2 separate regions of the Homo sapiens genome follow, and region 2 is linked to region 1. Evidence: fine-mapped QTL for protein levels in blood plasma. A gene starts in region 1. The other region holds a variant in brackets. All regions are shown on one strand. Distances are between the middles of the regions.

Region 1 (5,380 bases):
CCTCCAGTCCAGACATGTGAAGTCTCACTCCTTAGGTTACCAGCTAACTGTTAAAAGGGAAGGAGCTGGCCGGGTGTGGTGGCTCATGCCTGTAATCCCAGCACTTTGGGAGGCCGAGGCCGGCGGATCACGAGGTTAAGAGATCGAGACCATCTGGCCAACATGGTGAAACCCCGTCTCTACTAAAAATACAAAAATTAGCTGGGCGTGGTGGTGCACGCCTGTAGTCCCAACTACTCGGGAGGCTGAGGCAGGAGAATCGCTTGAACCTGGGAGGCTGAGGTTACAGTGAGTCAAGATCGCTCCACGGTACTCCAGCCTGGCAACAGAGCGAGACTCTATCTCAAAAAAAAAAAAAAAAAAAAAAAAAAGGGAAGGAGCTAAGTAAATTCATTTATACTTGTCAGGCCTCACTGCATTTAACACCTCACTGCATTAACAGCTACCACGCCCGGCTAATTTTTGTATTTTTGTAAAGATGGAAATTTCACCATGTTGGCCAGGCTGGTCTCCAACTCCTGATCTCAGGTGATTGGTCGGCCTCCGCCTCCCAAAGTGCTTGGATTACAGGCCTGGGCAACCGTGTCCGGCCAGTATTTGTATTTTGAAAGCAAAGTTTAATTATCCAAAATAATTACTCATTAATAGTAGCCCTTGTAGTTGATGGGAAGTAATAAGGAGAGAAGAAATCTTTTCAGTACATTTCAACAATTAATGCAAGCTGAAAAATGACACCTGTAGTAAATCAGATGTGGATTCAAATCCAAGTTCTTACTGTGAAAAGAAAGTAAATTATTTCAATGTCTGTGTCCTGGTTCATTAAATGAGGATAATCATCTGCCCCTTTAGCACCAATCACTTTTTCAATTGTAAGTATATTTTATTTAAGTGTGAACATTTTTAGGACCGATTGCAGCCACATTCAGGGTCTAGCACAGGGACAGGCATGTATGGGCACTCAATAGATGTTTGTTGACCCATACATCAATATAAAAGGGATTTGCAAATTGTAGAGCACCGCGCATGCCTCAGTTATAACAATACTGATCTTTATTACTCTACCTATGAAGAAAGCAAGTTCTTCTTTCACTGAACAGGGCTGGTGGTAGGGAGACAGGCTAGGGGCGAGCAGGAAGAAGGAATCAAGTCAAACAGGGACCCCTGCAGCAGAATCCATTGGGACACTTTAACTTAGAGTGTAGATTCCCAGACCAGACCGACAGAGTCCGAATCTCAGACCCTTTCGAGGTCAAAAAGCCCTGATTTGGGAGGTGGGTGATAATGGTGACAATCTCACTAGCCCTCTTACTGCTCCTTGAGAAATACTAGCGTACCAGGAAAAGTGGTGAAGGAAGCGTTCCTGAAGATATCCTTTCCTCAGTGACTCTCAAACTTCGCTTTTAGGAAAGAGGAATTTCGCTATTCCATGCGTTTCACACCTTAGAGTGAGGGTGGTAGGTAACTTAGATTTTCCTCTCTTCATTAAAAAAAAAAAAAAAAAAGAGTGTTGGTGGGGAGGGGGAGGAGGCCAGTTGAAAAGTAGAGGCCGAGGACAGAGTTAGACACTCGTTGTCTAACGGCCCTGCCGGAGGGGCTCCGCCTGTCAGACTGCGTCACCCTCTCGCCAAGGGTCCCCCAGACGGGCGGGGGCTCCTTGCGGCCGGCTAGCTACTCTCCCCGCCTCCCTGCGCCCTCGCCCTCCGCCCCGCTGTACCCGCAGAGCGCGCGGCCCAGCGCAGCCCCTTTTGGCACCGAGGTTTCCAGGTGCCCAGCGCGAAGGCGGAGCCGGGTTACAGCCGCCTCCTCGGCGCCACAGAGAAGACCCCCGGGAGTTCGGCGGCCCAGGCGCTCCGGCTCTGCGTCCCGAGCCTCCCCCGGCTCTCCGCGCTCCTCCCTCTCGGCGCGCCCGGCGCGAAGCCTGCGATTCGTGAGCCGAGCGCAGAGCGCAGAGCCGAGTGGCGCACGCTGGGCAGTGGCCTGGGCAACCCCAAACGCAGCCAGAGCCCTCACCCGAGTCCGCTGGCCCGCGCACTCCCGGACCATGACTGCCGAGGGACCCAGCCCGCCTGCCCGTTGGCACAGACGCCTCCCCGGGCTCTGGGCGGCGGCGCTGCTCCTGCTCGGTCTGCCGCGCCTTTCGGTGCGGGCGGATGGTGAGTGTGCGGGAGGCGGCGGGGCGGGGGGTGGAGCGTGGGGTCCGGGCAGGGAGGGCGTAGCTCGCCGGGGCTGCTCCCTCTGACCGGCCCGGCAAGCGGCAAGCGCAAGCCTGAGAGGAACGAACGAGCCGCGGTCCTGCGACCCAGCATCCCTCTCCTGGCCCACCAAGTCTCCGCGTGCCCGTGCGCCCAAACGCCCGCCTGGTGCCTGGACCCTCCCTTAGCGCCGAGCGCGTAGGTCCCGCAGTCCCGCCGCTGGCTTTCCTAAGGTCTCCAAGAAAGCTCGAATGAAATCACCTCTAAGGTGCCCTAGAACCTCCTCTGCTAAGGGGTGATTTTCCGCCGTCCCTCAGTTTCTCAACGTCTATTAATGTGCCCCTGAGGACACCGCCGATGGTTAGAAAACTCCCTCGGATATTTTGGCTTGGTCCGGGAAGACGTGAAAGATGAGTGGGAATCAGCGAGGCTAAGAGAGAGAGAATGGCCTGGCCAGAGGGAAAAGCACGTGCAAAGGCTGTCTCTGAGTGACAGGAAAAACGGGACAAATGATAAAGCAAAGTACCTGGAGGCGAGGGGACGTCTTGAGACATGAGGTAGAGAAGTGGGCAAGGGCCAGATTATGGCAGGTTCTCTGAGAATTGATCCACTTCTTGTTCGTTTGCTTGGTTTTTCAGCCTGAATTTAGCTTGTAATACTTGCCCTAAAATGAGCAGGATTGGAGCTCTGTATCCATTCCCTTTTGAAAAGCTAATTCAGCTGTGTTTTCATATTAGAACAAAATCCCGCTGACTTGGTACAGGAGCATCTGAAGGAAGCAAGCTTAAAGCCAGCAGTTCTCACACCCATGAGGTAGTTCTAGCTTAGGACGAATTAGACTGATAAAAGAGAAAAGCCCTCCGTCAATTTAGGATGCGTTGTATATTTTAAAATGTGATTCTTGTTTAGCCAACGATATTGAGTGAAACTAGAAGACATGGGGAAAAAAAAAAAAAGCATGGTTGTCAGGAAAAGGGGAAAGCCAAGGAAAAAACCGTCTAGGTCGTAGAGTTTTTAGTGCTCTCTGTTTTAAGTGCAGGCTTGAAAAGCTCTCCGTTCCTAATTAAGGATGAATGTCGTATTTCTCCATATCCTCAGAGAGAGTGTTAGAGACAAAACATTTTTAACTTTGAAGGCTGTTAGTAACCACTGCTAATTTTTTTAATTGACATGTATTTCACATAAAATTTGTCATTTTAAAATATACAGTTAAGTGGGTTTTAGTATATTCATTAGGTTGTGAAAACCATGGTTTGCATGCATCTAATTCCAGAACATTTCCATCACTCCTCAAAAGAATCCCATACCTATTAGCAGTTTACTGATAATTCTTCACTGTAGTGTTTTTTGACTGACATTGAGCCATGAAAATTAAGCTGATTTTAAAGAATGCAAGTAGAATAAATTGGAGCTAATATTAATCTTTGAACAAGATATATTGTGCCAACTTTAATTCCTTTTAAATAAATATTTTTGCAATCCATAAGGTTTTAGAGTTTCATCCCATTATAACTGTTTAAGTGGAATGCCATGTGGATAAGGATCAATATTTTGTGCCTGTCTAGCTTGATACGGGTCATAGAAAATTAAAGGCAGAAATGTCACTGGTCAAAGAGAAAGTAAGGACAACACCAGAGCACATGATTCTTTGTTACTGCTTGCCAGAAATGATTCCTTTTCTTCATTCTCCTTCCTTTTCTTTCCCCACTTCCTCAGTGGACAATTATAGGTATACTTCCTTATAGTAAACTCAATTTTATGAGCTCCAACTTTTATACTAGAACCAGGAAGAGTTATAAGCTATATTATCAAAGGATTCTTTTTGGTACTAAATTCTTAGCTGCCACCAGTTCCTACATTTAGTTATTTGTGTGCTATGGTGACGGGAGGAAGAAGAAGAAATGCTCAGCTTAAGTATGATGAATTACAGATGTTTGAAGAGATAGATTTGGAGAGAAACTATTTCTAAAAACGTGTCATCTGTATAAGGATGGTCTTTGAAATCATGTGCGTGGGCAGAATCCTAAGGAAAAATTTTACAGCAAGAAGACCTAGAACTGAGCCTGGAGTGAGGGAAGCTGGTTTGGGATTATTGAATCTATGTTTATGAAACATATTAGCCTGTAATTTTCATTTTTTATAATATCTTTGCCAAGTGTTGATATCAAACGTATGATGGTTCCTAAACCAAATTGTAAAGTTGCTCCTTCTTTAACTCTGAAAGGGTTTCTGCGGGTGAGGGCTTTTGTTTGTTTGTTTTGGTGTGAGATCATCTGTGTCTGAAGGTTTTCTTGTAGGAAGATTTTAAATAATGAATTTAATTTGTTTGGTAGATAAAGAAGTATTCAGATTTTAAAATTAATTTTGTGTCAATGTTGCTAAGTTTTATTTTTTAAAGTTTTTCCCCCACTTCATTTAGATTGTCTAATGTGGCATATACAATGTAATAATCTCTAATTATCATTTCAGGGTCCACGGGATCTGTAGTGATGTTCCCTTTCATTCTTGATATTGGTACTTTGTGTTTTCTCTTTTTTTGTCTTGATCAGTCTTAGTAGGGGTTTATCCGTTTTATTATTCATTTGAAAAAAGCAACTTTTGGCTTTATTTTCTTGATTGTGTGTCTGCTTTCCGTTTTACTGATTTCTGCTCTATCTGTATTATTTCCTCCTTCTACGTTAGAAGATTTGATTTTGTGGGACTTTTGTGTTTGTTTTTTGAGCTAGAAACTTAGATCATTGATTCTCAACCATACTTTTTTGGTATTAATAATGTGAGATCTGAGGCTATAAATTTCTCTTAAACTACTTTAGTTTCTCCATAAGTTTTTGGCCCTTGAGTTGACATGTTTTATTTCAGTTGGGATTTCTTCTTTGAACACAGTTTATTTAGAAGTATATTTTGTAATTTCCATGCACAAGGGGATTTTCCTAGTTATTGCTTTGTTATTGAGAGGCAGTATAACCAAGTGATTAAAATCACTAACGGAGCCATACTGCCTGGTTCTGTATCTCTGCTGTGTGATCTCGGACAAGCATTAATACTAAACCTTAACTATAAAATGAGGATGATAATACCACCTATATCATAGAGTTGTCATAAGAATTAATTTAATGAGTATTTGTAAAGCAATTTGAACAACATCTAGTCCATAGTAAACACTATATAAGTGTTTCATATATAAAATA
Region 2 (5,380 bases), 68 kb after region 1:
CGATAATTCACTAGAGCATGACGCAGGTGGACTGAGGCTCATCATTTTTTCCTCAGCCCTTTGTTTTATAGGCTGAGAAGTGTCTCTGGAGCACCTGGGAGGGCAGGGAGGCTTTGGTGACATCATCACTCATGTCAATGTCTCCTCCACCATCTGCCCTGGAATTGACTACACTAATCCCAGACCTGTGCTTGGGCCCTGTTTCCAGTGTGAGGTCAAAAATCGCCTCTTCCTTCATCACAGTATTATCTTTTTTTTTTTGAGACAGAGTCTCATGCTGTTGCCCAGGCTGGAGTGCAGTGTCCCGATCTGAGCTCACTGCAACCTCTGCCTCCCAAGTTCAAGCAATTCTCCTGCCTCAGCCTCCCAAGTAGGTGGGATTACAGGCATGCACCACCATGCCCAGCTAATTTTTTTATATTTTTAGTAGAGATGGAGTTTCACCATGTTGGCCAGGCTGGTCAAGAACTCCTGACCTCAAGTGATCTGCCCTCCTTAGCCTCCCAAAGTGCTAGGATTCCAGGTGTGAGCCACATCACAGTATTACCTTTTTGAAGAAAGAAAATCACCAGCTTCATGCCCTGAAATTTTATAAATAGTCATGATAAACCAAGTGTATGAGAGCAGTATTATCTAGGACATGGATATTGAATTATTGGGAGAGGAATATGGAAGAATAATGGGTTGTTTCCTTTTAATGTTGTGATGTTGCTGAGGGCAGATGAACCAAGAGCCAGGACACAGTCTAGAAGCTTTGAGGTTTCTTTTTTCATTGTTTCTTGAAATTAGAATTTAAGACTGACATTTTGTTGGGGGAGTTGAGGAGTGAAGAAACACACATCCCCCTCTGTTCCCTCCATTCTGTGGGACAGTCTGTCATTTATTTTATTTTATTTTCAATATTTCATGGTTAAGGATTTGCCATTATTTTTTAAAAACAAAGTTAGCTTTGTACCAGTAAGTACCATTTCCTCTCAGAAGCAGTGGCCTAGTTGTCCTTGACCAGTCTGTGCCTAGGAATGTCTTGGAATTTTTGCCAGGACTAACAAAACTCAGTCCTTGGTTTCCTCTCTCAGGATTAACCATTTCTCTGAACTCCAGTAAGAGAGAATGACACGGGAGAAAAAAAAAAGAAATGTTTTCAGAGGGCCGAACACCAGGTTATCAAGTATGGGCACATACTTGATGGAGAAGCAGAAGAATCTGTGAAAGAATATGAAATGATCTGTGCTGATCTGTTCTCTAGTGTGGAAACTGGGAGCTCTGTGGAAACAGAATCCATCCTGTCTGTTGGGTAACCCATTTCGTAGCATCTAAATCATCTTAGGGTGGCTCAGCGAGGATGGTTTATGGCAGTGGTTCTCAAAGTGTGGTCCTCAGACCAGTAGCATCAGCGTCACCTGGGAATTTGTTGGAGATGCAAATTCTCTAGTCCCACCCTGGACTCAGGAAACAGGAACCCTGGGAGTAGGGCCCAGTTCTGTTTTTAACAAGCCCTCCAGGTGATTTTGATATGCACTCAAGTTTGAGAGCCTGTTGGTTTATAATAATCTCAAATGTGAACTTCGAGGCCAGCTGAAGCCCTAAAGGCACAGATGAGTATGTGGTGTGTGTTGTGTGGAAGTCAGGCATGGCTGTGTGCAGCTGAGGTGGCATTTGAAGCTGCCTAAATGCCACCTGCAATAGTCTCCTGTATGTTGGCACAGAAATGAAACATGTTATATTTTTCTAATATGAATCACCTTCTTAGAAATAGTTATCAGTGGTAAAAAGTGATGAATGCAACACATTTATTTTGAGACACCATAGCAGTCTAAGTGTTTTTGTGTGGTAGAGGGAAATCCTGATCTTTTTTATGATTGAAAAATTGTTGGTGGTGTTTTACCTAAGGAAAAAAAACATTCGCAACATGTTTTCTACCCTGCCACCTCTTTTCAGCAAGCTTTGGAAAAGTAATAGGCGAAGTAGCTGTAAAGAGAGGCAGCATAATCAAAGATCTTATTCCCCATAGTTGGGTAAAATAAAGCCTGAAGGTACCAACTAGAATACCTGTGCATCAGACGAAGTCAAGAACAATAGGAATAAAATGCTTTCTGCATGTAGCCAAAGCAAAACATAATAGAATAAAAGCCAGAGACTGTATATATTTATAAATTAGATCCTAATCTACTGCAAGATAACTTTTCTATTTTTAACTATATAAAATAACCTCTGTCTCAGCATTGGGACTGTGTTAGCAACTATTATTGTGGAATAACCCAGAACATTGGATTTATACCAACAAATAGGCAATATTAATACAGTGTATTAATAAATTTATTACAAATTATTAATACAGTGTATTAATAAATTTATTACAAATTATTAATACAGGTAAATGTTTTATTTGTAGACATGGACTGTGAAATAAACCCAACACATCAGTTTTTAAGTTCTTATTGGTGTGGTATCCTCTAAATTAATGTTATAGAATCTAAAAATTCATGTTGAAAGGGAATGATTAAAACAATGTAAATCTAAATTGTATGTCATGCATGTTTTGAGAATGGTGAATGTTTAATGCTCATGAAAATTGGGGGAGGGGGTTCTATTAACACAAAGCTTCTGAGATATTTAAAATAAATAATTATTGCCCCAACAGTTGCTGAATGTATTTTATTTCTAGGCTACTGCACCAAGGTTTAAAAAAAGAAAAAAATTCTCGCTGGGCACAGTGGCTCACACTGGTAATCCCAGCACTTTGGGAGGCTGAGGTAGGCAGATCACTTGAGGTCATGAGTTCGAGACCAGCCTGGCCAACATGGTGAAATCTTTTCTGTACTAAAAATACAAAAATTAGCCGGGCGTGATAGCATGCTTGTGGTACCAGCTACCCAGGAGGATCAGGCAGGAGAATTGCTTGAACCCGGGAGGCAGAGGTTGCAGTGAGCTGAGATCATGCCACTGCACTCCAGCGTGGGGGACAGAGCAAGGCTCCATTCAAAAAAAAAATCTCTAGTAATCTTGAAAATAATGTCTTAATACTTGCTATATCTAAGATCTAAGACTGCCCTTTCTAAACCTAACTCTCAGTTATGTTACCTCCTGCAGCAGGATTTTAGGGAAGTTGGTGGCACTCTTGCCCCCCCCTCCCTCCCTACTTCCCTCTTCCTTGCCCC[GC/C]CCCCCCCTACTTCCCTCTTCCTTGCCCCAACCAGAGACCACTTACTTCACTGCAACGAAACACCCGGGACCTCGCTATTCAAAGTGTGGCTCCTGCCCCAGCAGCACAGGCACTGCGAGCTTGTTAGAAGTACAGAATCTCAGGCCCTGCCCCAGGACTGCTGAATCAGGATCTGCATCTAACAGGATGCCCAGGTGGTGGGCATGAATGGTAAAGCTTGAGAAGCACTGGCCTAAGAGAGAACTGATTATCCCCTTTCTCCTAACTCACAGGACACTCAAAGGAGTAATTAGAGGGTTAGCTGAAGGGACTGTTCACAAAGGTGTGGGGAAAGTTAGGGGAACCATCAGGGGATGGTGGGGACCTGTTATGGAACCCAACAAGAGCTCAGTAATAGGAAAGGCCCTGCAGGACAAGGGCTCTGGCCTCAAAGAGAATGCAGCCAGTGTCCAACTGTGGCCTGGAGGAAGCAAAGATTTTAAGGAACCAGACCTTGTCTCACCCTGCCATCTCTTGTTGGCATGTCCCAGTGGCAACTGGAAATCAGAGGGTGAAGAAGCCCAGGCAATGGAACCATAGAGGTCAGGCTTCTGGGACACCGGGCATGTTGGAGGGGCATGTTGGAAGAGATACGGAAGGGCAGCTAGCAAATCCAGCTCAGACGCCATCAGCACCAATCCCATCTGCCTTATGTCCATTTTTACATCCATGACCACCACAGATCCATGCCTCCCAAGCCTTCCAATGTTGTGGACATTGTTGATGCCCCTCCCAGGTCCCCTTTGCTAGGTAGGTGAACCTGTCTTCCAGCTGCCCTGAGTGTTGGCTGTTAAAATGCTCATAAGCACGTAAGTGTACCCTTCCAACGCAGAGAATTGCCCTTGGCCTATTGAGAGTTCCCTCACCCAGGAAGTTAGACCACGGTATACTCTGCTAGGGCAGCCTATAACCAATGACCAGCTGTCATGGGAATGCAAAAGGCTGGCCTCCTTTCCTCAAGGTGGGACCAACTCCGATATGATTCATGCTCCAGAGCTCCCATGAGATCAAGCTGAAGTCAGTCTCCAACTGAAGACACATCCTTACTGGCTCCTTCCTGCTTCTCTCACACCCCTTCTCTTGAGAGCACCCCATCACTTCCCTTGCTTCAAAGGATCCTGACCTAAGACATCCATCAACACTCAACTCTTACTCCCTACACCTCCTCTCCTCAGTCCAGATTTTTTCACCATAACCTCTGGAATTCTTGGGCTGACCTCCATGTCCTCCACCTCTTCTTCAGACAGCTGTTTCAACTCTCCATAACGTGGACTTCTTTTTGTGCTGGCTGGTTCCTCACTCTTTCCACCTGCTTCCTTCTACTCTTCTTTCTCCTGCCTGCCCTTTAGTGGCATGCATGGAGCATAGTTGCTGTTGACAGTCATGCCTGAAGATGCTTTGTGTCCCTGTTTGAAACAGATTCCAAATGTTTTTCCTAGTGGGATTCCAGATCTCCTCTGAAAGACAATCTTCCGGGGGAGAGGCATGAGCCTCTACTGCCTGACAGGACCTCAGCCAGCTCTTGGCTCATGGAGAGCAAGGACCACTCCTCTTGCATGAGATCCAGGAGTCCCTGGCTTGAAGTTTCTACTTTGTTAGATGAATGTCAGAAATTTCACAGACCTGAGAAAACAGAGCTCATTACAACATAGCTTCTAGAATGTGGTGAAGACATCCCTGTCCAGTGGATAGAATAGAAAATAGAGAATAAGCAATGTAAAACATTTAATGTGATTTAAAAAGAAAAACAAAAACCTTTTGTTTTCAACTATTTTCTAATTTTCAACAAGAGTGAGCTTGTACATACCACACTAACCCAAAGAGGGGAGGCAGAAAAAGACATCAGCAACGGTCTTTGGAGTTTGGCCTACTGGCTGCCACCCTAAAGTGGGAGATAAAACTCTGGAATCTATCTTGTATCTGTTGGCCAAATTGCTTAATTCCTTCCTATTCTCTTCTTGTAAAATGAGGCACTAATATCTTACCGGCCAGCTCCAAGGGGATATAGAGCCAACTCACTCATTCATTCAACAAGCAACGAAAGCCAGCTATTTGTGTGGGGACAGTGTCAGGTGCAAGGATATGTGGCTGTTCACGAGCCGGCCCTAGACGGAAAACACTCTAAGGATAACAATAGCTGCTCTTGATTCTTATTTCTGGGGTAGCAGTGGGTCAGTCAAG

Direction of the effects. Positions count from the first base shown, and alleles are read on the strand shown. Strength reflects both the effect of a copy and how common the allele is.
For the plasma level of the protein whose gene starts at base 2,029 in region 1, allele GC in region 2 goes with a higher level than allele C (strong association).

The links. PIP is the chance, under the fine-mapping model, that this variant and not a neighbour inherited with it causes the effect. The UK Biobank Pharma Proteomics Project read protein levels with antibody pairs (Olink). The fine-mapping took linkage between variants from a reference panel, not from the people measured, so its PIPs are less certain.
Region 2: its variant is fine-mapped to the plasma level of the SUSD5 protein (UK Biobank, PIP above 0.99).

The regions. Positions count from the first base shown.
Region 1 is chr3:33,215,459-33,220,838 of GRCh38, reverse strand. SUSD5 (sushi domain containing 5) reads left to right here and starts at 2,029. Exons shown (of 5, transcript NM_015551.2): 1 at 2,029-2,153. The coding sequence starts at 2,042.
Region 2 is chr3:33,147,301-33,152,680 of GRCh38, reverse strand. CRTAP (cartilage associated protein) reads right to left here. Exons shown (of 7, transcript NM_006371.5): 7 at 4,908-5,380. It overlaps SUSD5 (sushi domain containing 5), which reads left to right. Exons shown (of 5, transcript NM_015551.2): 5 at 1-2,638. Among named protein-coding and RNA genes, the nearest start is that of CRTAP, 36 kb to the right of the region's middle. The variant GC/C (reference allele first, on the strand shown) is at 3,159.